Linked DNA regions of Homo sapiens: all the other regions are reported to be linked to region 1. Evidence: microRNA targets listed by miRTarBase, many of them from high-throughput screens and not tested one by one. Region 1 holds a microRNA gene; each other region holds the end of a gene's coding sequence.

Region 1 (7,119 bases):
TTTTGTCATAATCTTTGCTTAAAACATTGGAATTTTTAATGGTAGGCAAAAGGAGTTAATGAAGAAACATACTGGAGATGTTCTGTGTTATGTTTTTAAATGCATGATATGTTCAAGGCAAATTAGTATTGTTTCATTTTCTTTAATTTCTTCTTTAGATTGTCTTTTCTCTCCTTTTTTTTGACATTTATCTAAATTCAGTTTTTCCACCAAACATTGAATAACATTTGTGTTATAATACATTCTCAAATTTTAAATATTTCACAGAGTACAGAATATTGAAAGTGTAAATTTACCCACACTTAAAACTACTGATAAAATATGTATTTCAGATATTAGTTTAGTATATTTCATGTATTCTATATTTAGTGCTGTATTTCAGATACTGTTAGTTCTCTTACTTTGAACTATCTTAGACTTTGAACTGTCTTAGCATAACGTAATAGATTCTTATTAAACGATTATTGTAGGTACCAGAAAATAACATTGTCTTAGAGAGTTCAAAGTAAGAGAAATCTCACTTAAGTTCACTTAAACAAAACAGCATGTTTTTTGGCTCATCTCCCGGGAAGTTCAAGAAATAGAGCTGACTTTCAGCATTATTGGAACTATAGGTTTAAAAAGTGTTATTGGGACTTTGCAGTTTAGCCTTTTAGCCTCTGCTCCTTGGTCTCAGTCTCTTGCTCGTACCTTATGTCTCTGTCTCTTTGTTTCTCTCACTATTTTCTTTTTCTCATTTTGCATATAGCTTTGAAAAAAGTAAAGTTGAAAATTCTAAATCAAATTCTTTTTAGTTTTTTTTTTTTCTTTTTTGAGATAGAGTCTTGCTCTGTCACCCAGGCTGGAGTACAGTGGTGTGATTTCCGCACACTGCAACCTCCATTTCCTGGGTTCAACTGATTCTCCTGCCTCAGCCTCTCGAATACCTGGGACTACAGGCGCACACCACCACGCCTGGCTAATTTTTGTATTTTTAATAGAGATGGGGTTTCACCATATTGGCCAGGCTAGTCTTGAACTCCTGACCTCAAGCAATCCACCTGCCTCGGCCTCCCAAAGTGCTGGGCATTATGGGCGTGAGCCATCTTGCCAGGCCAAATTCTCTTTAAAATTTTTAGATTGTAATTTAGCACATTAAAATTGTATGTATTTATAGGGTACAAAGTAATGTTCTGATATATGTATACAAAGTGGAATGATTAAGTCAAACTAAACATATCCATCACCTCAGATATGTAAAATATTTGTGGTAAGAATATTTGAAATGTACTCTCTTAGCAATATTGAAATATACAATACACTATTATTAAAGGTAGCTACCATGCTGTGCAGTAGATATCAAAAATGTATTCCTCCTAACTGAAACTTTTTACCCTTTGACCAATGTCTCCCTTCTCATCCTGTCCCCAGCCTTGGGCAAATACCGTTTATTCTCTGTTTCTTTGATTTCAATTGTATTCGATTCCACAGATAAGTGAGATCATGCAATATTTGTCTATGACTGGCTTATTTCACTTACTGTAATGTTCTCCAGGTTCATCCATGTTGTTGCAAATGACAAGATTTCGTTTTTTAAGGCTGACTGGTACTCCAGTGTATATACAGGCATACTCCTTTTTATTGTGTTCTGCTAGGTTGCATTTTGCAAATACAGCAGTTTTTACAAATTGAAGCTTTGTGGCAACCGTTTGTTGAGCAAGTCTTTCAGCACCGTTTTTCCAACAGCATGTGTTCACTTCATGTCTCTGTGTCTCATTTTGGTAATTCTCACAATATTTCAAACTTTTTCTGTCATCTGTGATCAGTGATCTTTGTTACTATTATAATGGTTTTGGAGTGCCATGAACTGCGCCTATGTAGGACAATGAATTTAATCAATAAATGTTGTGTGTACTGTGGCTACAACACTGATCAGCCATTCCCCTGTATTTCTCCCTCTGCTCAGACCTCCCTATTCACTGAGACATAACAATATAGAAATTAGGACAGTTTAACAACCCTACAATGTCTTCTAAGTGTTCAAGTGAAAGGAAGAGCTGCATATCTCTCCCTTTAAATCAAAAGCTAGAAAGGACTAAGCTTAGTAAGGAAGGCATGTTGAAAGCCGAGATAGGCTGAAAGCTAAGCCTCTTGTGCCAAACAGTTTACCAAATTGTAAATGCAAAGGACAAGGTCCAAAGGAAACTAAACGTTCTCCATTGAACACATAAATGATAAGAAAGCAAGGTAGCCTTATTGCTTATGTGGAGAAAGTTTGAGTGGTCTAGATGGATCGAACTAGCCACAAGATTCTCTTATGCCAAAGCCTAATCCAGAACAAGGCTGTAACTCGTCTTAATTTCATGAAAGCTGAGAGAAGTGAGGAAGCTGCACAATTAAAGTTTGAAGCTAGCAGAGGTTGGTCCATGAGGTTTAAGGAAAGGAGCTTTCTCCGTAAACTACAAGTACAAGGTGAAGCTAGGTCTTCTGGATAACATGCTGAAGCTTCTACGTCATTCAGCACTTGCTTCAGCATGTTTTCCAGAGGATCTAGCTAAGATAATGGATGAAGGTGGCTACACAAAAGGACAGATTTTTAAAGTACATGGAACAGCCTTCTGTTGGAAGAAGATGCCATCTAGGACTTTCGTAGTTAGAGAGCAGTCAGTGCCTGGCTTCAAAGAACAGACTGACTCTTGTTAGGGGCTAATGCAGCTGGTAACTAAGTTGAAGCCAATGCCCATTTACCATTCTGAAAATCCTAGAGTGTTTAAGAATTATGTGAAACCTATTCTGCCTGCGCTCTACACATGGAATAGCAAAGCCCAATGGCAGCACCTCTGTTTATAGCATAATTTACTGAATATTTGCAGCCTACTATTGAGACCTTCTGTTGAGAAGAAAGATTTCCTTTCGAAATATTGCTGTTATTGACAGTGACCTGTTCACGCAAGAGCTCTGATGCAGGTGTACAAGGAGATTAATATAGTTTTTATGCCTGCTAACACAACATTCATTTTGCAGTCCATGAATCAAAGAATGCCTCCAACTTTTAAGTCTTATCATTTAAGAAATACATTTCATAAGGCTATAGCTGCTATAGATAATTATTCCTCTGATGGATCTGGACAAAGTAAATTGAAAACCACTGGAAAGGCTTCACCATTCTAGATGCCATTGGGGACATGTGTAATTCATGGGAGGAGGTCAAAATATCAACATTAACAAGAGTTTGGAAGAAGTTGATTCCAGCCTTCACAGATGACTTTGAGAGGTTCAAGACTTCAGTAGAGGAAGTAATTGCAGATACGGTAGAAATAGCAGGGGAACTAGAATTAAAAGTAGAACCTGAATATGTGACTGAATTGCTGCAATCTCAGGGTAAAACTTCAGCAGAGCCAGGCACGATGGCTCATCCCTGTAATCTCAACACTTTGGGATATTGAGGTGGGAGGATCGCTTAAGGCCAGGAGTTTAGGATCAGCCTGGGCAACATAGACGCCATCTCTGAAAAAAATTTAGGTAGGTTTAGTGTTACGTGCCTGTAGTCCTAGCTATTCAGGGAGCTGAATAGGAATATCACTTGAGTCCAGGAGGTCAAGACTGCAACGAGCTATGATCACACCACTGCACTCCAGCCTGGGCAACAGGAGGAGACCCTGTCTCAAAAAAAAAAAAAAAAAACAAAACTTCAGCAGATGAGGAGTTGCTTCTTAAAGGATGAGCAATGAATGTGGTTTCTTAAGGTGGAATCTATTCCTGGTGAAGATGCAGTGAACATGGTTGAAATGACAACAAAGGATTTAGAATAGTCTGTAAACTTAGTTGATAGAGCATTGGCAGGGTTTGAGAGGACTGACTCCAATTTTGAAAGAAGTTCTAAATTCTATCAAATAGAATTACATGGTATAGAGAAATCTTACATAAAAGGAAGAGTCCATCTATGTGGCACACTTCATTGTTGCCTTATTTTAAGAAATTGCTATAGCCATCCCAGCCTTCAGTAACCTCTACCCTGATCAGTCAGCAGCCGGTAACATCAAGGCAAGATTCTCCATCAGCAAAAATTATGACTTGCTTAAGGCTCAGGTGATTGTTATGTTTTAGCAATGATGTATTTTTTAATTAAGGTATGTACACTCATTTTAGACATAACGCTATTGCACAGTTAATAGACCACAGTATGATGTAACCATAGCTTGTATATGCACTGGGAAACAAAAAATTGTGTTACTCATTTTATTGCAATATTTGCTTTATTGTGGTGGTCTGAAATCGAACCCATGGTATCTCCAAGGTCTGCCTATATATACGATATTTTCTTTATTAATTTATTGATGGATACTTAGGTTGAATTGATAACTAAACTATTGTGAAGAAAACTTCACTTAACATTGGAGTGCAGCTATCTCTTCAACATACTGATTTCACATCCTTTGACTATATACACATAAGTGGGATTGGTGGATCATGTGGTAATTTTGTTTTTAAATTTTTTCTTTTTTTTTTTAGTTAAAATTTCTTTTCTTTTCTTCTCTTTTAATAAAACATTGTCCCAGAATATTTTTAGATATTTGAGGAACCTTCATACCCTCTTCCATAATGGCTGTACTAATTTATGTTCCCATTAGCAGTGTACCAGGCTCCCCTTTTCGCCACTTCTTTATGAAAACTGTTTGTTTTTTTCTCTTTCTGATAATAGACATTCTAGCAGGTGTGAGTTGTTATCTCATTATGGCTTTAATTTGCATTTTCCTGATGATTATAGATATCAAGCGCTTTTTTCATTTATCTGTTGGACATTCATATGTCTTCATTTGAGAAATATCTGTTCAGTTCATTTATCCCCTCTGGTTTTTTTTTTTTTCCCCCAAGAGTTGAGGGTCTTACTCTGTTGCCCAGGCTGGAGTCAAACTCCTGGCCTCAAGCCATCCTCCTGCCTCAGCCTCTCAAATAGCTGGGTCTACAGGTGTGCACCACTTGTGCCTGGCATGCCTATTTTTTAATTGAGTTGTTTTCTTGCTATTGGGTTACTTGAGTTCTTGATATATTTTGGATATTAACTCCTTATCAGATATACAGATTGCAGATATTATTTCCCAATCCACGGCTTTTCTCTTCACTCTGCTAATTGTATTCTTTGCTATGCAGACATTTTCAGTTTGATGTCATCCCATTTGTTCATTTTTGCTTTTGTTGCCCGTCCCTTTGGTGTGATATCCAAAAAAATCATTGCCCAGACTGATGACATGTAGTTTTCCCTCTGTGTTTTCCTCTAGTAGTTTTACAATGCAGGTCTTATGCTTAAGTATTTAATCCATTTTGACCTATTTTTGTATATGGTGTAAGATAATGGTCCAATTTCATTCTTCTGCATGTGGTTATCTAGTTTTCCCAGCACCATTTTTTGAAGAAACTATCCTTTCCCATTGTGTGTTCCTGGCACGTTTGACAAAAATCAATTGAGTATAAATGTATGGGTTGATTTCCGTGCCTTCTATTCTGTTCCATTGGTCTGTTTCTGTTTTTACACCAGTATCATGCTATTTTGGTTACCCTAGCTTTGTAATATAGTTTGAAATCAGGTAGTGTGATGTCTCTAGGTTTGTTCTTTCATCTCAAGTTTACTTTGAGTATTTGGTGTTTCTTGGTATTCCTAATGAATTTTAGGGTTTTTTTCTTCTATTTCTGTGAAAAATGACATCAGTATTTTGATAGAGATTGCGTTGAATCTGTAGATCATTTTGGATAGTTTGGACATTTTAACAAATTAAAAATTTAACAAATTAATTTTTCCAATCTGTGAACACTGGATATCTTACCATTTATTTGTGTCTTCAAATTTCTTTCATCAATATTTTATAGTTTTTATTTTAGAGCTCTTTTATCTCCTTGGTTAAATTTTTGTTTTTAATGAGATGGGGTCTTGCTGTGTTGCCCAGGCTTTTCTTAAACTCCTGAGCTCAAATGATCCTCCCACCCTGGCCTCCCAAAGTGCTAGGATTACAGATGTGAGCCACCGGCCTGGCCGATATATTTCTAAGGTTTTTTTTTTTTTTTTTTAAGTAGCAATGATTAATGAGATTGTTTTGTTTATTTTTAAAATCAGATCAGATAATTTGTTGTTACTGTATGGAAATGCCACTGCTTTTTGCATTTTAATTTTGTATCCTTCATGTTTAATGTAGTTGTTTATTAGTTCTAACTGTTTCTTTGGTGGAGTCTTATGTGTTTTCTGTATGTAAGATTGTGTTGTTAGCAAACAGTGACATTTTCACTTCTTTATTTCCTATTTGGATGCCTTTTTATTTCTTTCTCTTGTCTAAATGCTCTGGCAGGGACTTCTAGTACTATCATAATTGAGTAGAAGTTGTGAGAGAGTGCATCCTTGTCCTCTTTCTGATCTTAGAGGAAAAGCTTTTGAATTGTCACTGTTGGGTATGATGTTTAGCTCTGGGCTTGTCATTTATGGCCTTTGTTGTGTTGAGGAACATTCCTTCTACACCTAATTTGGGAGAGTTTTTGTCATGAAAGGATGTCGAATTTTATCAGATGCTTTTTTTGCATCAGTTGAGAGGATCATATGGTTTTGTCCTTAATTTTGTTAATATGAACAGAATGACATCAGTTAATTTGCACATGTTGAGCTAATCTTGAACCCATGGCATAATTCCTACTTGATCACAGTGGGTGATCCTTTTATTGTGCTGTTAATTTGGTTTGCTGGTATTTTGTGGGGGGTTTTACATTTGTATTTATCAGGGATAATGGCCTATAATTTTTTTTAATTCATTTTGCCTGGCATTGGCATAAGGGAAATCCTGGTCTCATAAAAAGAGGAACTTTTCTTTCCTTTCTGTTCTTCGGAGGAGTTCAAGAAGGATTGGTGTTAGTTTTTCTTTAAATGTTTAGTAGAATTCACCGGTGATGCGATCAGATTCTAGGCTTTTGTTTTGATGGGTTGATGGGAGACTTTTTTTTTTTCTTTGAGACAGAGTCTCGCTTCTGTCACCCAACGCTGGAGTGCAGTGGTGCAATCTCGGCTCACTGCAACTTCTGCCCCCGGGTTTCAGGTGATTCTCCTACTTCAGCCTCCTGAGTAGCTGGGGTATTTTTAGTAGAGACAGAGTTTCACCATGT
Region 2 (7,119 bases), not on the chromosome of region 1:
TCCACCCGCCTCAGCCTCCCAAAGTGCTGGGATTACAGGCGTGAGCCACCGTGCCCGGCCTAATTTTTGTATTTTTAGTAGAGAGGGGGTTTCACCATCTTGGCCAGGCTGGTCTCGAACTCCTGACTCCAGGTGATCCACCCACCTCAGCCTTAACTCCTTTTTTTTTTAAATTTCCATTTTCAAATTCCCTAGTGTCCTCTCTTTCCCAAATCCATTTGCTGCTTTTCCTAATCTAGTCAGATCATAGATGTGGCACAAAACATATAAAAATTTCTTAAAATGTGGAAACTCTTTGACTCTTAAGCCACTTCAAATATAATTTGGCTGGATAGTGTCAAAACGTAATATCCTTTTTGAATTTTCTTTTCTTCTAAAACTGTCATAGCTGACTTTTGATATCTACAGCAAATTCTATCTGCACATATAAGTATTCCACTGGGGGATTTATGTGACTGACTTCAGTCGCAAAGCACACACTCTTTTTGGAATCTCCCTTATGTTTATGACCCATCTCTGGGGCTCACGCTACAGAAGACTCAATTTCTCTGTACAATTCCTTCTAAACACATCCAGTATCCTTGTTAACTCCAAAATGGCTACTGCTCTGGAAATCTTTCCTCCCAGATCAAATAGCAGGGAATGGTCTGGATTGTTGTTGTACTGTAATGAAATTAGACTGAAGTGAATATAGCTTAAAATATGCATTCTGAGCGATGTGGAACTGTTATTCATATTGCTGGCACAGTGGGAGTGAAGTGAAAATGTGATAATATATGGGGGATGCTCTGAAAATTGTGAAGCGCGACGCAAATGTGAAGTAGATATTTTCCCCCCAAATTGCCAAGAAGCGTTTCCTTTCTGAGGCCAGGACTTGGCGAATGCCAGGCACACGCGATTTGAGATGAGGACCATGGTAGTGATTCTTTGCTTTCTTGCCTCTCACTGCATCCTCTGCCAAGGCCAGAATAGTTAGGAGACGCCTGGCCAGCTGCTGGAAGCAAGTTGAGGACTCTGCTTAGAAAGATGACATCACCCCTCAGCCTCAGTTTTCTTTCCAGGATGACGTCTTCACAGAGTTGTGATGGAGGTGAAATGAGATTTTGTAGGGCAAAGTGCTTAAGCGCTGGGGTCATCATAGTAAGTGCTCAACAAATGGGAACTGTTGTTGGTCCTTTTTTTTTTTTTTTGAGATGAAGTCTCTCTCTTGTCCCCTAGGCCAGAGTGCAATGACACGATCTTGGCTCACTGCAACCTCTGCCTCCCGGGTTCAAGCGATTCTCCTGCCTCAGCCCCCCAAGTAGCTGGGATTACAGGTGCCTGCCACCACGCACGGCTAATTTTTGTATTGTTTTTAGTTGAGATGGGGTTTCACCATGTTGGCCAGGCTGGTCTTGAACTCCTGACCTCAGGTGATCCACCCTCCTCGGCCTCCCAAAAGTACTGGGATTACAGGCGTAAGCCACCGCACCCGGCCAATTATTGCTCTTATTACCCTCCTCTCACTACTGACAGGGTAGGAAGGGGCCTGTCAGTCCCAGTCACTGACTCTGGGCCTCAGCTCAGGCCAGAGTTCCAAGGGCCCTTAAAAGGGCGGGAAACATTATTTCCGGGTTGCTCGGAGAGTAGACCTGTCCTAATGCCGCTGTAATCATTAAAAGGGCAACACAGATGGGCTGCCCATCGGCGGCTTGAAAACCCATTTCTTTTAAGGGGAGTGGCTTCTGGGAAGTGCGTAAAGAACCTCCAGGCAGGGGCGGGACCAGAGGGCCACGTGCGCCAATGAAAAGTGGATATGCAAATATATATATGAATATGCTAACGAGCTCTCGGTTTCCCAGTGAATGGTAGGGCACAAGCCTGGACTGGCAGAGCGGGCTAGGGAAGAAGAGGAAATGAGAGGACCTCGAGGTTCAACCGAGTGTCTGAATGGAAACTAACTCCCGACAGACCATGCACAACGTTTCTTCCACAGCACCCGGATCTCGAAGCCCCACTGGGCATCAACTGTCAGTCCCTCACTAGGGGGGATGAAGGGGGAGGGCGTGGGAGATTCTTTTGGCTGTGGTAAGGAGCTCTGAATTTAGAAGCCAGAAGGTTCTTGCCAGCAATACTACCTTGTTTCACAGATGGGGAAACTGAGGCCTGACAGGTTAAGCCCCTTCTCCAAGGTCGCAGTGCTAGACGCAGAAGAACTCAGTTTGGCAGGTTTTGTCTATTTTTGCTTTGTTTTCATTACTGCACGGGGGCACCACTCTGGAGGTGAAAAGGCAGCAGCCTGAAAGGCGGCAGAGCTTGGTACATTACCGAACGTGTCGGACTGCCCACCAGGCTGGAGGTTTTAGAAAATATGTCCTAGGAGAAGATGGAAGGAGTCAGGGTGGCCGCCAGTAGAAGCAGGCAAGGACAAATTATCATAGACTTGTCTGGAATGTGTTGCTATATAAAAGGTGACGAAGTGTTCCAGCTTCCCAGAGAACCGGTGCAGTGGAAATGAACGGGGAACAGAAGGGATTAGGGTTAGATTTAAGGCAGTACTTTCTCCCAGGGATGATAATGGGGCCCTTCATTCAGTGACCAAGGCAGGCTAGGGACTCATCCCCCTCCCACTTCCGAGGCCTTTGGGAATCCATTTCCCTCCAGTCCCACACGGCCAGCTTGGAGGTCAGGAATGAATTAGAAGACTTTGAAAAGTCCCCACTATTCAGGTAGGCGATCCTTTCCCTGGATGGGCCTCCTGGGCTCTTTGCTGAGGGTAAGGACAGCAGCCGCTCTGGCTCCAGGGCCCTGGGGAAGAAACAGCAGTCATGGCATCTCTTGCAACACGCTCCCTGCCAAATTGATTCAAATTGGCTTGGATATGAACATATGATTAAAGGAGCGGCGCGATTCATTTATCAGGAGAGATTAAAGAGCGGCATCTGCGCAGCCTAGCTGGGGGACAATTAAGGAGCAAATCGCTAAGTGTCTTTGCCACCAGGCAAGTGGGTGGAGGATGGGGCAAGGACAACTGGGATAATCTGCCAAGGAGACACAAAGACAAAAGAAGACCATTTAGGGGTCACTGCCTGCCACTTTATTTTCTGGGCACAGACTGGGCACCATGGGGAGTCCCACAGGGGCACTGGTTCCCGCCCATGCTTATTCAGGAGTCAGAGCAATCCCGGGGATCTGCAGTTATAGAGGAGGATCTAGCAGGCTGGCTTTGAGCCTGGCAAAGGGCCAGATTTGCCTTCTGCAACATCTTAGGGACCAGAGGTACCATGAGTGTACAGGTAAGGTCAACAGCAGAGCCTTCAAGGTACACCCAAAATAAAGATGGGCTTTGGTGGCCCTAAAGGCTCCTGGACTCCTCTGGGGCCAAGGGAATTGTCTCCTTCTCAACTGAAACTTGGAGAAGCACTGGTCATGTGACAATGCACAGCCAGCCTGTGGCATGTTCTACCAGCACCTCTCTTTCCCTGCCCCAGGACCTTTACTTAAACTCTTCTTCTTCTCAATATGCCTTTCCCAGCAACTGTACCTGTGGAAGTGCTATTTTCAAGCCCTGGTCAAAATAGCAGCTCCTTTTAGAGGCTTTCCCAATCCTCCCCGCCAAAGAGAGCATCTCCCTCCATAGTATGTCCAAAGCAACCTCTTCATCCTTGTTAGGTCTTATGTAATTATTTCCACATGGGTCTGCTCCAGCCCTCGTCCGCAAAACCCTGGAGGATGGATACTATGATGTGTTCCTCTCTACCCACTCTAAGCTTATGCATACTAGCAGGTGCAGCATGTATTTTGTGTCTACCTTCCTCCACTTTATGAAGGAAGGGACCTTATCCATCACCAGCACCCAGAATGGGGCCTAGGCACAGCAGGCAGTCATGAAATATTTCTCAACTGTTAAGCAAATGAATATGTTTTCTGACTTGAACAAAGCTTTTTACCCCAGGCCGGGTTATTGGAGGTTGATGTTGGAGTTTCCAGTTAACCAGAGGCTTGACTCAGTATGAGTGAACAGATTTGGGAATTCATCTAAAGGTGGCAGGGAGTTTGTCACACTAGTCCCTAGTAGAAACAGAAAATGTACCACGCTATGTGAAAACAGGAATAAAAGATGAGAGTGACAGAACTGAACATAAGCTAGCAGCCTTTTTTTTTTTTTTTTTTTTTTTGTAAAAAAAAGTAACTTAGGCCAGGCACAGTGGCTCATGCCTATAATCCTAGCACTTTGGGAGGCGAGGCAGGCAGATCACTTGAGGTCAGAAGTTCGAGACCAGCCTGCTCAACATGGCGAAACCCCGTCTCTATTAAAAATACAAAAATTAGCCAGGCGTGGTGGTACACGTCTGTTAAGTCCCAGCTACTCGGAGGGTTTAGGCAGGAGAATCGCTTGAACCTCGGGAGGTAGAGGTTGCAGTGAGTTGAGATCATGCCACTGCATTCCAGCTTGGGCGACATAGCAAGACTCTGTCTCCAAAAGACAAGTAACTTCCCTTTTACTATTGTTTCTATCCTCTTCTCTGTTCTATCGTGGGGCAATGGAGGGGGCAGTCTCTGTTCGAGACAGATCCACTTCACACTCTGTCCCATTCATTTTGGGGGAGACTTTTCTCCCTTCTTCCCTTTTGGACTCTTTCTGGATGGCTGACATTATCAGAGCCTCGGCACTTGGGCTGTTTGCTATTTTTTCCCACCCATCTGTCCAAACTACTTTATTCATTCAGGGATTATAACTGGCCACACTACAGAATGAGAAGGTAGAAGGTAGAAGAGGAGGAGGGGTGTCATTTGTTTCTTGCCTTTCTGCATGAGCTGCCTCTTAGCTGTCAATGAAGGAACAAAGCATGGAGTAGGGCATGAAGACAGGGACCGAGCAGGGCAGAGACAGCACTCCCAACCTATTCACATTGCCCTGTGGGCCCGAGCTAGTTCTGCCAAGTTTTGATCAAAAAGTCACCTTTGAAATGGCTAAAATTAAGCTTTTAAAAAATGTTCTAATGAGAAGGGCTTGAATCCAAAAAGAAAGAGAATGAAAGAAAGAAAGAGAGAGAGAGAGGGAGAGAGGGAGGGACGGAAGGAGGAAGAGAAGAGAAGAGAAGAGAATCTCTGTAATTGGTGAGATTTAACAATCAGAGGGACCTCAACATTCCCTTGTGGAGGCTAGGGAGGATGAGGCTTGGAGTCTCTGCCACCCTTGCTAACCTGAATCACAGTCCCTAGGCTCTTCACATAAAAGGTGGGGCTTGTGTCTTCCTTGGCCAATCCCCTCATTCCACTACCTCTGCCTGCCCCAAAATGAGCTGCCTAGGCTCTTTAAGTGGCACTGGTCTGACACTTTGGGGAGCAGGCCAGAGACCAGGGTGATGCCCTCACGGTCCCCATCAGAATCCTGCCTCTGCCCACCACCCCCAGGACCAATCCAGACTTTGCCTGAGCCTGAAGGAACAGGCAGGAAAACTGGCGCAGCCAGGAGGAAAAGGGCCTTTATTTCCATACATCGGGTAAACAGGGGAGAGCACAGCCCAGTGAGTACAAACCAATTGCAGGAGAGAAGGGGGGCGGCAGATGGGAGCAGCACCAGGCACTGCACTTGGGCTCCCAAGTCTGGTGGAGTTCTCAGGGATAACCTTTTTAGGGTGGGGGCTGGGACCTCCAGACCACATGGTGTTGTGTCTGGGATAAGTGTGTGGGGGCAGGGAGGTTGGAAGAATGACACGGGCTCAGGACACAGAGTGAGGACTCATGTCTAATGAGCACCGGCCAAAACTTCCATCTTCAGTTTTTCTGATCACAAGTCCTCAACCCCAAGCCTTCCCTCTCAAGTTGAGTTTATGGTCCAGACCACCTGGACAGAGCAGGAGGGAGGCAGTGCTTGGATCAGCCCTGAACTGCTGTAGTTGGAATGGGTTTACCTTAAATAGGTCATTGCACATAACACGCTGAGACAAAGAGGGTGGGGTGGGGGCTGGAGGTGCGGATGGTCCACACACACACTTGTCTGCGTAGGCTTGCTCAACCCAGCCCAGCAGCACCGGAGAGCCCCTCCGCACCTCATTCTTAAGAACCTGGACCCGGCTCTCCTCACCAGCGTCTCCAGCTGCACAGAGAAAGGACTGCTCTCTGAAGGGTGAAGATGGAGATGACATTCCCGAGTCGTTCTTGGGAGCCCCAGCTACCACTACAGCCCCCTCCCACTCTCAGGGATGCAGCTGTGATGGAGAGGTTGGGTATTTAAATTAAAAAGTAGAAAGACAGCAGGCACCAAGAAGAGAGAGCCCCCACCCCACACGAGAGGGAAGGCACTGCTTCTCCTCCCCCAATCCTCCCCATGGACCCAGCAACCTAGAGTGTCCCAGTAGGCAACCTGTCCACCGTCCCTGAGCAGGGAGCTGAGAGGGAGGTCAACGTGCTGGCTCCATGCAGTGCCAGGCCACCTGCCACTGCCCACGGTGACACAGGGTAGAAGCCAAGAGTCTGGCATTTTGAGACAGAGGAGCAAAAAGTTCTCTTCAGAAACTCCTCTTTCCCCCACCTCTTCCACGTGGAGACATCAGACACCCATAGCCTGGAAAGTGCCCCTGACAGAAGAAGGTCAGGGTGTTTCCCATGCAGATCAGCAGTCGGGTGGGGGAGACCGGTGCCCCACCACTTCCTGGGAGAGGTGCCCAGGCAGCCACAGGCCCTGGGGTGAGAGGGCTGCCAACCACTCCCCTGGGCTATGCGTTAGTCTCCGTCAGCTTGGCCTCTGTGTCGCTGTCACTCAGATAACTGTGGGAGTATCGCGGTCTGGAGGTGTTGTCGAGAGGGTCGTGCTCATCATCTGACCGATCAGGGGCAAGGGACTTCCAGTAGCTGGTGGGGCTGCAGGGACCGAGGAATAAGGTTAGGGACAAATGACACTCCTACCATTAAGCACGCACGCCTTTGGTTCTGGAGGCCCACAAAGCTGCGTCAGAGCACTCCCCAAAAGCCAAACATTGTTAAGTAAAAACCTTCCTTGGCTTACTTAGAAGATACTCAAAATGCTAAGAGGAAGGAGACTCTGGAAGCTTTTAAAGCTCCGAGGAAAGGGATGCTGAGAGCAGTGAGTCTCGGACTCAAGCGTGCATAAGAATCTGATGCAGGTTCCTGGGC
Region 3 (7,119 bases), not on the chromosome of region 1:
AGCCAAGACTGCACCATTGCACTCCAGCCTGGGTGACAGAGCGAGACTCTGTCTAAAAACAAAAAACAAAAAAAAAAAGAAAGAAAGATATTTTATTTTATTTTTGAGACTAGAGTCTTGCTGTGTCACCCAAGTTGGAGTGCAGTGGCACAATCACGGCTCACTGCAGCCTTGACCTCTTGACCTCCCAGCTCAAGCGATCCTCCCACCTCAGCCTTCTGAGTAGCTGGAACTACAGGTGAGCTCCAACACACCTGGCCAATTGTTAACTTTTTGGTAGAGATGGGCTCTCACTATCTTGCCCAGGCTGGTTTCAAACTCCCAAGCTCAAGTGATCCTCTCACCTCAGCCTCCCAAAGTGCTGGGATTACAAGCTGAAATTTTACATAATACAAAGTTTTAAAGAAAGAACAGGCCAGGCGTGGTGGCTCATGCCTGTAATCCCAGCACTTTGGGAGGCTGAGGCAGGCAGATCACCTGAGGTTAGGAGTTCAAGACCAGCCTGGCCGACATGCAGAAACCTCATCTCTACTAAAAATACAAAAATTAGATGGGCGTGGCAGCGGGTGCCTGTAATCCCAGCTACTCGGGAGGCTGAGGCTGGAGAATCGCTTGAACCCTGGAGGCGGAGGTTGCTGCAGTGAACGGAGATTGCGCCACAGCACTCCAGCCTGGGCAACAGAGCGAGGCTCGGTCTCAAAAAAAGAAGAGACAGCCGGGCGGGGTGGCTCACGCCTGTAATCTCAGCACTTTGAGGGGCTGAGGTGGGCGGATCACGAGGTCAGCAGTTTGAGACCAGCCTGACCAACATGGTGAAACCTCGTCTCTACTAAAAATACAAAAATTAGCCAGGCATGGTGGCATGTGCCTGTAATCTCAGCTACTCAGGAGGCTGAGGCAGGAGAATCACTTGAACCCGGGAGGCGGAGGTTGCAGTGAGCTGAGATCACGCCTCTGCACTCCAGCCCGGGTGACAGCGAGACTCCATCTCAAAAAAAAAAAAAAAAGAGGCGGCTGGGCGCGGTGGCTCATGCCTGTAATCCCAGCACTTTGGGAGGCCAAGGCGGGCAGATCACAAGGTCAGGAGATCGAGACTATCCTGGCTAACACTAACACAGTGAAACCCTGTCTCACTAAAAATACAAAAAATTAGCCGGGCATGGTGGCGGGCACCCATAGTCCCAGCTATTCGGGAGGCTGAGGCAGGAGAATGGCATGAACATGAACCCGGGAGGCGGAGCTTGCAGTGAGCTGAGATTGGCCACTGCACTCCAGCCTGGGCGACAGAGTGAGACTCCATCTCAAAAAAAAAAAAAAAAAAGAAGAGGCTTGCCGTGCTGGTGCCTGGCTTAGGCAACTGGCTGAATGGTAGCTCTATTTCCTGAGATGGAAGACAGAGAGGAGCAGATGGTGGTAGGGGTGGAAATTACAGGTTCTGTTCCTGCCATGCTGTGGGTAGCCTATGTCAGGAGAGAGCAGAGGCAGAGGCCGCTGGGGTTTGGGAGCCAGGCTTTGCACCCCTTCTCAGGCATGAATTCTTCTCTTGAGAACGGTTTAGAACAGAACACCTTGGCTTGATGTTGACTCCAAGAGAGTCTGAACACGTGGCCACCCCATCTCCCATCAGGAGATTGTGAGCTGAGAGCTGTCCATCAAACAATGGGGCTTCTGGGTCCCTCCTCTTCCTGGCTGTGCAGGCCCAGTGCCCTCCCTCATGAGGTGCAGGTGGGTTTAGAGCCTTGTGACAGTGATCATGTAACATGTAACAAATCACTCCAAAATGTAGTGGATTAAAACAAGGATTTATTTCCCCTCATTCTATAGGACAGCAGTCTGGGCTGGGATCAGCTTGGTAGTTCATCTGCTGGTCTCACCTTGGGTCACTCCTGAGGCTCCTGTCATCTGCGGCTCAAGTGGGGCTACAGTGTCTAAGATGGCCTCTGTCATCCCATATCTGGAGCTGATGCTGGCTCTTGGCTGGGGGCCTCAGTTCTCCACGCAGCCTCAAATCTGTCAGGAGGCTTGGCTGGACATCTTTACAGATGGTGGTCTCAGGATTGCAAGAGGGCAAAGGTGGAAGCTGCGAGAGTCCTTGAGGCCTAGCCTCAGAAGTGGGCCAACATCTCTTCCCTCACATCCAATCAGTCACAGCAAATCACAAGTCCAGCCCAGATTTAAAGGGCGAACAGATTCCACTTCTTTTCTTTTCTTTTTTTTTTTTTTTTTTGTGAGATGGAGCCTTGCTCTGTTGCCCAGCCTGGAGTGCAGTGGCGTGATCTCAGCTCACTGCAACCTCTGCCTCCTGGGTTCAAGTGATTCTCCTGTCTCAGCTTCCTAGGTAGCTGGGACTACAGGTGCACACCACCACGCCCAGCTAATTTTTGTATTTTTAGTAGAGTTGGGGTTTCACCATGCTGGCCAGGCTGGTCTTGAACTCCTGACCTCAAGTGATCCACCTGCCTTGGCCTCCCAAAGTGCTGGGATTACAGGCGTGAGCCACCGTGCCCGGCCTGATTCCACCTCTTGAGGAGAGGAGTGGCAAAGAATTTGTGGCCATATTTAATCTACCATAGGCCTGAAGGTCCCCATAAATGATCTGAGCAGCTCACTTTGCCCTGAGCAGGCCCATATCTGACATGCCACCACCTTCCTTCCTTAAACCAGCACTATAAAGAGCTTGGTGTTCATTTTGCAGATCACTTTACAGGTATCAATCAGTTAGGAATGGCAAATGGCATTTGGCTCAGCAGTTGATTGCATTTTTGAAGATGACCACTAATATATCTCCCATCCCGCATGCTTTTCTAACAATGTGACATTGACAAGCCTCCACAGAGAGATGAGATCCTATATTCCCTCCCCTTGAAACTGAGTGGACCTTCATAGTAGCCTTGACCGATGGAAAGGGGCAGAAGTGATGCCATGTGACTTAGGAGGCTAGATCACAAAGTGCAATACAGCTTTCACCCTCTCAGTATACTTGTTCTTGGAACCTAGCCACCATGTTATGAGGAAGGTCAAGCCGCTTGGAGAGGACCTGTGTGGGTGTTCCCACCAACAGCCCTAGTTAGGCTCTCAGCCCTCAGCCCTCAGCCAGCATCAACTGCCAGACATGTGAGTGAATGAGCATTCAGATGATTCAAGCCCCAGCTTTTGAGTCTTCCAGCAGAGGCCCTGGATGTCGTGGAGCATAGAAGCCATCCCCATTGTGTCCTATCTGAGTTCTTGACCCACAGAAGCCAGGAGAGAGCATAATAATTATTGCTCTTTTAAGCCACTAGGGTTAGGATAATTTGTTATGTGGCAGTAGATAATTGGTAAAAGCTGCTGGTAACAGAGACAAAAAAAAAAAGCAATGGGCTTAAGCAGACTTACAGTTTATTTCTCTTTCTCATTGAAGTCTGGAGGTAGGCGACCCAAGGGATGACATGGAAACTTGCATGGTGTCATCAGAAGCCCAGGATCTTTTCCCTTGTTGCTCTGCTGTCTTCAGCATGTGGCTACAATTTTCTTTTTCTTTTCTTTTTTTGAGACGGAGTCTTGCTCTGTCGCCCAGGCTGGAGTGCAGTGGCGCAGTCTCGGCTCACTGCAAGCTCCGCCTCCCGGGTTCATGCCATTCTCCTGCCTCAGCCTCCCAAGTAGCTGGGACTACAGGCGCCTGCCACCTCGCCTGGCTAATTTTTTGTATTTTTAGTAGAGACAGGGTTTCACCGTGTTAGCCAGGATGGTCTCGATCTCCTGACCTCGAGATCCGCCCGCCTTGGCCTCCCAAAGTGCTGGGATTACAGACATGAGCCACCGCGCCCAGCCTGTGGCTACAATTTTCAAGGTCATTTCCTGCTCCAAGATGGCTGCTGGCGTTCCAGCTATCACATATGCATCCAAGGCTGAATGCAGGCTGAAGCAGAGAGGACAAAAATGGCCTTCATCAATACTGCTTCTATTCAAGGGGCATTCTTGGAGATCCCTTCCAGCACCTTCTGTTTATATCTAATATCCTAGAATTCAGCCACACAGTCATACCATATATGCCAGGGAGGCTGGAAATGTTGCCCTTTAGCTGGGCACATTGCCTTCTGCAGCAAAACTGGGGTTCTGTTATTGGGGAAGGGAGGAGAATGGACAGTGAGTGGCCAGTGGGCAGTTGTTGGCTATGGTGTTAGAGCAGAATGGTGGAAAAAGGGTCTTTCCCATGGCAAGGAGCTGAAACCAGCATGCTGGCCTCCCTACCTGCTGGAGCCTTTTTTTTTTTTTTTTTTTTTGACAGTCTCAGGTGGAGTGCAGTGGCGCAATTTCAGCTCACTGCATCCTCTGCCTCTCGGGTTCAAGCGATTCTCCTGCCTCAGCCTCCTGAGTAGCTGTCACAGGTGCCCGCCACCACACCCAGCTAATTTTTGTATTTTTTGTAAAGACGGGGGTGGGGGGTGTCTCACCATGTTGGCCAGGCTGATCTCAAACTCCTGACCTCAAATGATCTGTCTGCCCCGGCCTCCGAAAGTGCTGGAATTACAGGCATGAGCCACTGTGCCTGGCCACCCCCTGCAGCCTTGTTGAATGTTTGGGCACCACAGGGTTTTCCACCTAATTTGCTTCTGAACGAGGAACTGATTTCACACCCAAAGAAGAGAGGCTGTGGGTTAACGCACAGGGAGAACTCTGGTCTTTCACTCCACCCTCCCGACAGAGCCAGCAGGTCGCTGGACTTTTGCTAAATATCCTAAAATGCAGCCTTGACTGTATCACGTCCCTGCCCAACCCCCTTCCATGGTTCCAGATTGCCCAGTTTGCTCCAGTTTAAGGACAAATTCTAGGGTTTGGCATGGAAGCTGCAGCAAAGCCTTCCATGGCTTCTTGCTTCTATCTCCTTGTCACACCTCAGCTCATGCCCGACAACCAGGCCTTTGTCTGGGCAGCATCGGCTGTCCAAGACATTGCTTGCCATGTCTTTGCTTAGTGAAATCCACCCATTCTCAGCACACTTCCCGGGCCACCACTAGCCCTTAAGCCACCTTTGCGTGAAAAGGAAAACGGTCCCCTTTCTCCAAGTGGATGTAGCTCCATGCCAGAGTTTGGGGAGTGGCCTGTAGGCTGGATTCCATGCACGCTTGCCCCTTAGCCCACTGCCCTTGCACAGTGAACACCCTTTACTGCTGCACATGTGACAATGCCACGTCCAGGAATCTTTCAGAGCTCCATCAGGGAGTCAGGACCTTCCTTTTCCCTGATGTTTTCTCTGCCTTTGGATTCCATGCCAGCCTGCCCTGGTTTGGGGCTGCCCTTTCCAGCTTTGTGTCTTCTGACCTGCTTCATGCCCTTTCCCTCAGATTGATAATGTCAGTAGCCGCTGGGGGGGCACCGAATTCGAGTCACAGACCATAGCTCTTTCTCCCCACTTTGGGGACCGGCCACCACTCCCTTAGCCCTCGGCATGCCCAGCAGCAGAGTGGAATGTCCCACTGAGCTGGAACAAGGGCCACCTTGACAATGCCTTAGCAGTGACCCAGGCCCAGATACCGGAGTCAGGGGAGCCAGGTGCTCAGAGCGCCTCACACTTGAGTCTCAGAGGCCCCAGGCTAGGCAGGGGAGGTTTCCTCTCCTCTGCTTACTTGGTTCCTGGGAACACTGGAGCCCAATTCTGAGTCCCTTCCCAGAACCCCTCATCGTGCCCTGAACCATGGGGGCCCATAATGCTTGCAGTGGAGGCCTTAGACCCATGACCCAGGAATGCACAGGCCTTCCATTCCATACCTTTATTTAATCTGCATCTTCTCAGCCTCCTCCCTTCCCCGCCACCCCTTAGAGGGCGTGGAAGCCCTCGTTGAAAGGGAAGGAACTCCTCTCTCCTCCCTGGGGGAGGGTCAGTGTCCCCTGGGCCAAGACTCGTTGATGGGAGAAGCAAGGGCCTGCGTGGTGGAGCAAGGACATCATCCAAGAGGCTGTGGCCAAGGCCCAGCCCCTCGGATGCCCTCTAGGCCTGGGCCCCATGGATCATCAGGAAAGTGAAGAGTAGATAAGTCCGGGAGGGCAAGGAACGGGCGTCCCTGCGTGTGTGTGGCTGATGGAGGCAGACATGGACTTTGGGAGGCAGGAGCAGAGGCCAGGGGATGTGGGGACCAGGTGAGGCCCTGAGAAGGAACCCCAGGTTGTAGGGGTAGCTGCATGTGGGGGGAGTGACTGGCCCTGAGCAGCGGGAGAGAGGGCAGGCAAGGAGGAGGGGCCTATCAGGGGAGGATGGGAATGTTGGGTGAGTAGCAGGGCCAAGGCCATGGTGCCACCACAGCCAGCTCTTCAGCCCCAGGGAAGCCAACCTGGCTGGGCATGGCCCCAAGCCTCCAATTTGTGCTTCTGCGTCACTGGGGGGGCTCCCAGCATGGCCTCAGCCCCGGTAGGGAAGTGTCCACAGGCAGCCTCTGCTGCAGGCAACAGCTGGCCGCAGGACTCCTCCTCCATCCCAGCCTTTCTGGAAGCTTCTTCTCCTGCCCTTTGTGAGAGGCCTTCAGGCCAGATCATCGGCCATCTTGGGGGATGAAGCCATGCTGGGGGCGATTCTTAGGCTTCCACTTCCTCCAAAATGACCACAGGTAACTGCATTTTAGTCTGTTTAAGGACCCCCACCCCCACCCTCACCCCTGCCCCTTGTGTGTGGCTGGTCTGTTTTCCCGCCTGTTTTGGACAACAATCACTCGGGCATCTAAGCCCATGGTGGAATGGTGGGGAGGGGGCCACTCTGGGGGCCGTGGGGGGTCTCAGAGAGCACCCTGCCCATCCCCCTGGCAGCCGCTGTCTCCGTGGACAATGAGCACCGGGAAGTAGAGGGCGTCCTCATAGCAGGGCGGGCTCTCCAGGGGTTCCGTGTCCTCTCCACGGCGCCCCAGCGGCCCCCCGCTCAGGCTGCGGAAGACCCCTGGCGTGGCCCGGCCGCCAGCGCCCAGCGAGAGGCGGCTGCGGCTGAAGGGCAGGCGGGGCCCGCTGGGCCGGGCGGGGGGCAGCGAGTTGCTGCTGACAGAGCGGCGGCAGCGCTGGCAGCCTCTGAGGTAGGCGCCCGAGCCCGCGCCCATGACCACGGCCTCCGAGTAGCTGGGCACCAGCTGCCGGTTGGAGCAGATGTGCCACTCGAGC
Region 4 (7,119 bases), not on the chromosome of region 1:
ATATGAGAAATGAGTGTTGGACGTCGAAGAATAAAGTTGTTGGGTATCCTGATGATGGCAAATGTCTTCATTTATTTTATTATGGAAGTCTCCAAAAGCAGTAGCCAAGAAAAAAATGGAAAAGGGGAAGTAATAATACCCAAAGAGAAGTTCTGGAAGATATCTACCCCTCCCGAGGCATACTGGAACCGAGAGCAAGAGAAGCTGAACCGGCAGTACAACCCCATCCTGAGCATGCTGACCAACCAGACGGGGGAGGCGGGCAGGCTCTCCAATATAAGCCATCTGAACTACTGCGAACCTGACCTGAGGGTCACGTCGGTGGTTACGGGTTTTAACAACTTGCCGGACAGATTTAAAGACTTTCTGCTGTATTTGAGATGCCGCAATTATTCACTGCTTATAGATCAGCCGGATAAGTGTGCAAAGAAACCTTTCTTGTTGCTGGCGATTAAGTCCCTCACTCCACATTTTGCCAGAAGGCAAGCAATCCGGGAATCCTGGGGCCAAGAAAGCAACGCAGGGAACCAAACGGTGGTGCGAGTCTTCCTGCTGGGCCAGACACCCCCAGAGGACAACCACCCCGACCTTTCAGATATGCTGAAATTTGAGAGTGAGAAGCACCAAGACATTCTTATGTGGAACTACAGAGACACTTTCTTCAACTTGTCTCTGAAGGAAGTGCTGTTTCTCAGGTGGGTAAGTACTTCCTGCCCAGACACTGAGTTTGTTTTCAAGGGCGATGACGATGTTTTTGTGAACACCCATCACATCCTGAATTACTTGAATAGTTTATCCAAGACCAAAGCCAAAGATCTCTTCATAGGTGATGTGATCCACAATGCTGGACCTCATCGGGATAAGAAGCTGAAGTACTACATCCCAGAAGTTGTTTACTCTGGCCTCTACCCACCCTATGCAGGGGGAGGGGGGTTCCTCTACTCCGGCCACCTGGCCCTGAGGCTGTACCATATCACTGACCAGGTCCATCTCTACCCCATTGATGACGTTTATACTGGAATGTGCCTTCAGAAACTCGGCCTCGTTCCAGAGAAACACAAAGGCTTCAGGACATTTGATATCGAGGAGAAAAACAAAAATAACATCTGCTCCTATGTAGATCTGATGTTAGTACATAGTAGAAAACCTCAAGAGATGATTGATATTTGGTCTCAGTTGCAGAGTGCTCATTTAAAATGCTAAAATAGATACAAACTCAATTTTGCATAGAAAGGTGTATTTTGAATAGTTCCCATGTTGTGTTCTCACATTAGAGTAATTTCTATATTAAACCATGAAAATTGCCTTTATGAGTGATACCCATTTGAGGGCCTCTAAACCCTTCAATTTGGTACTCACGTGAAGAGGGAAAGCGGAAGATGGTAATTTTTTTTTATGGATGATATGGCAGGATGATTGGTTCTGATCTTACCGGCTAGTGGTCATTTTTAAAAAACTTGTACCCTCTTATCTGAAATCCTGTTTCTGGAATTTGGCCATTTTAAGTGATTTTGTTTGCCCTCTTCTATAATATTCCTACTTCCCATAATAATGACTGATTTATTTGTAATTCAGGTATTTATAAACCTATTGGCTACAAAGACTTTGTTAAACATTATCCAGTGGTTTTCGTGAAATGGAATTATGTTTATTTTTATGGGATTTGGGTAAATTTTAAATTGTCTAGAAAACTGAAATTTCAGTTGTCAGTTGTGGAATTCAGTTTTTCAATTGTGGAAATTTCCTGCCACCCCAACAGTATTTTTGTGTGTTAATTAATTTTGCAAAATGAGAATCATGGTGTGACACTCATCTAATTTATCTTGTTGTGATGTTATGGTCATAATAAGGAGAAAGAGGGTTTAATTTTTCTTGTATTTGGTTTCCTGGTGGTATCATAGTGTAATTTTAGTATTTGAAAATCAGTGTGATTCCTTAATGGCCAACTGAAGATTGAATTGCCGCTAACAACCATATCGTGTTAGTGAATTTTCAATATGGACCAGGAAGGCATATGTATTTTGAACTTGAGTGAAAAGGTTGAAGTTACAGACTTTTGCATAGATGGTTTGTCAATTTAAAATTCCAGAATTTATTATTGCCATATTTTCACATGCTGCTTATACAAGATTATTATTGAGTAGTAACTGCTTCCCTGTCTATGTAGAAGTGCCTGTGTTTTTATTTATTGTTCAGATCAAAGACCAAAACATTTTCTTAAATATATTTTATGTAATATTTTATTTGTATACAGTGTTGTTGATGAAATATTTAACTAGAGCATGATATTTTAAATGTTAAGGTGTAACATATGTTAAATAAAACTGTTATTTTTGAATTTTAAAATTTGTTTTTTGGGGGTATGAACTACTAGAGTTTAAAATTCTGCCAAACTATTACTTATATGTACTATTGTGTAACATACTTTCTTGAAATATTTTTGTTTATAGAATTGAAGGTTCTTATCAGATGGGATACTGGGGACTATAAACAATGGAAATAAAGCCACTGTATTTTTAATTTTTTGTGTAATGTGTAATCTATAATCCTTTTGTTTCCCATATTTGAGAACATTTTTCCCTGAAAGAGGCCAGTTTCCTCCCCAGAAACCATTACAGTAGTGTTGAACTATCACTGTCTCTCAGTGCGTCATCCATCTTTGCATTTAAAATCCCCAAAGTGCTTTCCCATTTAAAGTCTTTAAAGAAAAGTGAGAATATTTATTTATGCTTCCATTTTCAGTGAGTATAAATAATTTAATTAGGGAGTGGTGTGGCATTGTAAAGATTGTGTTATCCTAAGCCATTTCTATTTTGGAGTTTGTAGCCACAAAGATGAAATATAGAATCAGCCTTGACTACTCAATTTCCTTTCATAGACCCATGTTGAGAAGACACTACTAACGTCCAGTGGGAAACAAGTAGACAATTGATGAAGCTCAAAAAACAGAAGGGTTAGTGTTGTAAGAGCAAACAGTCTAATCCTGTTTGGAATGTGGAAGCCATTTCTGAGCAAGTATGAGGACACAGGTGCTTGATTTGAGATTGAAGACTGTTTTCAGCCTGGTCTTCCTGAAGGTTTCCTGGGGCCTGCATCTGCCTTCTACTCCCATGGCTGCTAGCACACACCTCCCAGAGGGCCATATTGCCACATTATGGCTAGAGAAGAGTAAAGAAGAAAAGAAGCTCTGAGAACATTCACAGGTAATTGGATCACATTTGCATTTGTCCAAAAAACCTGACCACGCATTCTCAGGTAATAGGTTTCTCCTCTCAGAGGAATTTCAATTTTTTTTCTTGTTAGAGATTCCCCTTCTCTGAGGTTTCAAGTCTCTTGTAGAGAAAGAAGAGATGGAGCAGGTTTTGAATGAGGTGTGGAGGGCCACTGGGGGGCCTTTTGTGAGCCTTCAGTCCACATGTGTGCTGTTGTTTGAACATGAGTTCTTGGTGCTGATGACATTTGGATGAGATGATCTCTGGCCCTTCTTCATTTGGCAGAAGTTCTTGTGCAATGGCTGCCCAAGCCCACCACACTGGTCATTGCTGCCCTGTGAGATGGACCTCATGGGCTTTTTAGCAGAGCACGTTAGGTTTTAGAGCTTTACGCATGCTTGGGCTCTGTTATGGCGCAAACCCTTAAATCCAGGAAGGCCTCTCTTGGTGCCCACAATATGGGTTCTCACCTGATCCCCCATCTCACGGATGGAACTGCTGTAAGTCTAACTTATTCTTTGAGAACTGTTTAACAATTAGGCCTCAAGGGAAACTGGTATTTTGGGCCCTTTTCTTGGCTATTCCCAAGTCATGTTGATTTTGAGTTTGAAGGTCAAAAAGGCTGAAAGCATTGCCAGGGTTTGGACTATTCAAAAACCCAAGCAGGTCTTAAAAAAAGGATGCAAGAGACAAGAATGGCTCATTCCCCTTCCTGATCCTGGTTATACCCATGTCCTTTCTTGAGATGGTCAAGAGAGGCTGGAAAGAAGAACAGGAAATTGGGGGAGTGCTTTGTTACACTTGGAAATTGAGTCAAGAATTAAAGACACCCAAAGTGGGCCATCTCCTACTTGTCCACACCTGATTGGTGGTGATGCGGAATATTTGATGTCCCGGGTCATCTTGACTTTCTCAGATGCAAAAAGGGAGGGTGACTTTACTAATGGAAAGGATGGGAAGCTGAAATGAATGAAGCCTTCAGTTGGGCCAAAGTTTAACTTCCCCGTGATTTGCCTTCTGATGAAAAATGCCAGATGAAGTGAAAATTCTTGTTTCTTGCCTAGAACAGGAAAATACATACTTTACATGCTGGGCTATTGAGGCTATGAAATTAGGTTTTCCTTAATGTAAATCCAATTGCTAGAAACATTTGCCAAATAAGATTTTTTGAACTGAACTTTGTTTGCATTAATCTGAAAAACTGAAGTATTCTGACTCATGAAGTTCTCAAAGTAATACACTAAAAAAGTTTTGCCCTTAATACCATTATATCTTGTAGAGGCCAAGAATGAGGGACTTCTGTCTTTAAAGAGCCCTAAAAATCTCGTTTGCTCACATGATATGAATTACCGTATTTGTTGTAAATGCGCAACTTTGTATACACTAAAAGCACTGCCAATATGATTTTTTATCAGTTGTGCCTCAGTTAGAGATATTAAAATGTGACATCTTAAATATTACATATTAGAATAATTGAAATACAGCATGAGTCTTTATATATTTTTTTAAACCCTTAAATTGAAAGATGGAGTCCTAGGCCGGGTGCGGTGGCTTACGCCTGTAATCCCAGCACTTTGGGAGGCCGAGGCAGGCGGATCATGAGGTCAGGAGTTCGAGACCAGCCTGGCCAACATGGTGAAACTGCATCTCTACTAAAATTACAAAAAATTAGCCGGGCGTGGTGGCGGCACCTGTAATTCCAGCTACTCGGGAGGCTGAGGCAGGAGAATGGTTTGAACCCAGGAGGCGGAGGTTGCAGTGAGCTGAGATCACACCACTGCACTCCAGCCTGGGCGACAGAGCGAGACTCCATCTCAAAAAAGAAAAAAAAAAGAGTCCTGTTCAGGTGCATTTCCTGCTTCTGTCACTTTGACCTGTGTTTATGAATTCTCATCCCAACCAACCCTGGTGGCTTTTGAGCTTTGTCAGTTGCTTTCTTCTTGGCTGTTGTGCATGGTGAAAGGGGATGTGTTAACTGCACTGAAGCAGCGAGAGTAGTTTTAATTTGATTGTAATCCAAGGGCTTATTTCTAAGTCAGGGGCCTGGCAGTTGAACAAAGTGTTTGCAGCTTCCTGACAGCTGACCCACACGGGATTGGAGGGTGGGCCTTTGATGCTCCTCAAGCAATAAGCCACATGGAGAACTTGCATCGTAAGTGTTAGCAAGGGCTCACCTCACTGCCTTGGAAACCTACCATCCTGTGACTCGCCCTTTCCCAGCCTGTCTTCAACTCACATCCTCTCTTCCTGCTCATCACCCCAGGCCTTCCTGAAGTTGGCTTTCCTAGCTATTCTACTGGGCACCAACTTCCACCACCTCTTTAAAAAGTATCTCAAGTACAAAATAAACATTATCCTATCCTTGGTTTGGGTTTTTCCAGAAAACAGACTTTAAGACAGGGATTCTAGCTCAGGTAGGCTTTGGTGGAAGTGCAGGCACAAAGTTCAGCAGGAAGTGGCCCTTGGAAGGCAGCAGATGAGGAGTGTGAAGCCACTGCCACTGTGGGATTGGAGCTCAACCCCACAGGGAATCTGGAAAACAGTGCAGAATGCATGCCTCAGAACGCACCTGTCTGAGGCTTGAAGGAGCTGAACTTTTTTTTTTTTTTTTGAGATGGAGTCTAGCTCTGTTGCCCAGGATGAAGTGGGCGCAATTAGTGGCGTGATCTTGGCTCACTGCAACCTCCATCTCCCAGGATGAAGCAATTCCCCGCCTCAGCCTCCCGAATAGCTGGGATTACAGGCGCCCATCACTGTGCCCAGCTAGTTTTTGTATTTTCAATAGAGACAGGGTTTTGCCATGTTGGCCAGGCTGGTCTTGAACTCCTGACCTCAGGTGATCCACCCACCTCGGCCTCAGCAAAGTGCTGGGATTACAGGCGTGAGTCACCGCGCCCGGCCTGAACTACTTTTTATTTCTATTTTTTAAGACGGAGTCTCTCTCTGTTGCCCAGGCTAGAGTGTAATGGTGCAATCCCAGCTCACTGCAACCTCTGCCTCCTGGGTTTAAGCAATTCTCCTGGCTCAGCCTCCCAAGTAGCTGAGATTACAGGCATGTGCCACCCGTCCAGCTAATTTTTGTATTTTTAGTAGAGATGGAGTTTCACCATGTTGGTCAGGCTGGTCTTGAACTCCTGCCCTCTAGTCATCTGCCCGCCTTGGCCTCCCAAAGTGCTAGGATTACAGGCAAGAGCCACCATGTCTGGCCTTAGTAGATTGTAGAATTCTGCCGGAACCATCACTCCACTACAAAGCCAATTTGGTTTTAAGTCATGATGATTCTACCCGCCCTCTAGAAATTTTTTATTTTGGCCCTCTTTTTTTCTTTAAAAAATTTCTGAAACAGTTTGTTCTCTGATTGCTCCTCTTTCCATAGGAGCCTGTTCTTCATGGATGTAAGGACTGTGTATAAGAAAATGAATTAGAGTTTTTTTTTTTTTTTTTTACAATTCTTATCTCAGGGATTAGGTGAGTTGTTCACCCTAATTCTTATGGAGAAGAACAAATACTAAGTGATGCTTGGTCCTTTAATGCAGGACTGAACTGATTTGTAGAAGTTCCTAGGAGGTGTTTCTTTTTCTGGGCTGTTTACCCACAAGGCCACTTCCTACACTGGAAGGCTGGGTGAGGGTCACTGTATGGACGTATGTCCTGGCTTCCTTTCAGGGACTGAGCAGGTTGGGGGCAGGTAGACTTGACCCCAGATCTTGGAGCTGCCTTTCTTCCCTTTGCTCTGGGTCTGTTTCGCGGTATTCTACTCAGCTGCTTCAACCTGAACCCTCTACCTCCCCTTCAGTTTAGGGAGCATTCCTTAGCAGGTAAGCATCTGAGCTCACGTGCACTTAACCTGTGTGTTTGCGTGTGCGCATGTGCGTGTGCATTTGAGTCTTGAAGAGTTGGTGAAGCC

Evidence for each region. Region 1 holds the annotated microRNA hsa-miR-5706 (UUCUGGAUAACAUGCUGAAGCU, at 2,465-2,486, shown strand). A microRNA usually pairs through its seed, bases 2 to 8, with sites in the 3' UTR of a target mRNA and lowers its output. Matches are read on the target gene's strand: a 7mer-m8 pairs with bases 2 to 8, a 7mer-A1 pairs with bases 2 to 7 and ends in A, and an 8mer does both.
Region 2: miRTarBase lists MYO18A as a target of hsa-miR-5706. Seed matches in the 3' UTR shown: 8mer at 4,620-4,627.
Region 3: the mRNA of TMEM151A is a reported target of hsa-miR-5706. Seed matches in the 3' UTR shown: 7mer-A1 at 6,459-6,465.
Region 4: miRTarBase lists B3GNT2 as a target of hsa-miR-5706. Seed matches in the 3' UTR shown: 7mer-A1 at 2,085-2,091.

What each region holds. Positions count from the first base shown.
Region 1 is chr5:119,152,182-119,159,300 of GRCh38, forward strand. It overlaps MIR5706 (microRNA 5706), which reads left to right and starts at 2,456; the gene lies at 2,456-2,535. The region is part of intron 19 of DMXL1 (Dmx like 1); the gene reads left to right.
Region 2 is chr17:29,068,069-29,075,187 of GRCh38, forward strand. MYO18A (myosin XVIIIA) reads right to left here. Exons shown (of 42, transcript NM_078471.4): 42 at 3,054-6,846. The coding sequence ends at 6,702. Among named protein-coding and RNA genes, the nearest start is that of PIPOX, 28 kb to the left of the region's middle.
Region 3 is chr11:66,295,281-66,302,399 of GRCh38, reverse strand. It overlaps TMEM151A (transmembrane protein 151A), which reads right to left. Exons shown (of 2, transcript NM_153266.4): 2 at 5,736-7,119. The coding sequence ends at 6,747. Among named protein-coding and RNA genes, the nearest start is that of TMEM151A, 6.9 kb to the right of the region's middle.
Region 4 is chr2:62,222,212-62,229,330 of GRCh38, forward strand. It overlaps B3GNT2 (UDP-GlcNAc:betaGal beta-1,3-N-acetylglucosaminyltransferase 2), which reads left to right. Exons shown (of 2, transcript NM_006577.6): 2 at 1-2,520. The coding sequence starts at 10. The coding sequence ends at 1,203. Among named protein-coding and RNA genes, the nearest start is that of MIR5192, 20 kb to the left of the region's middle.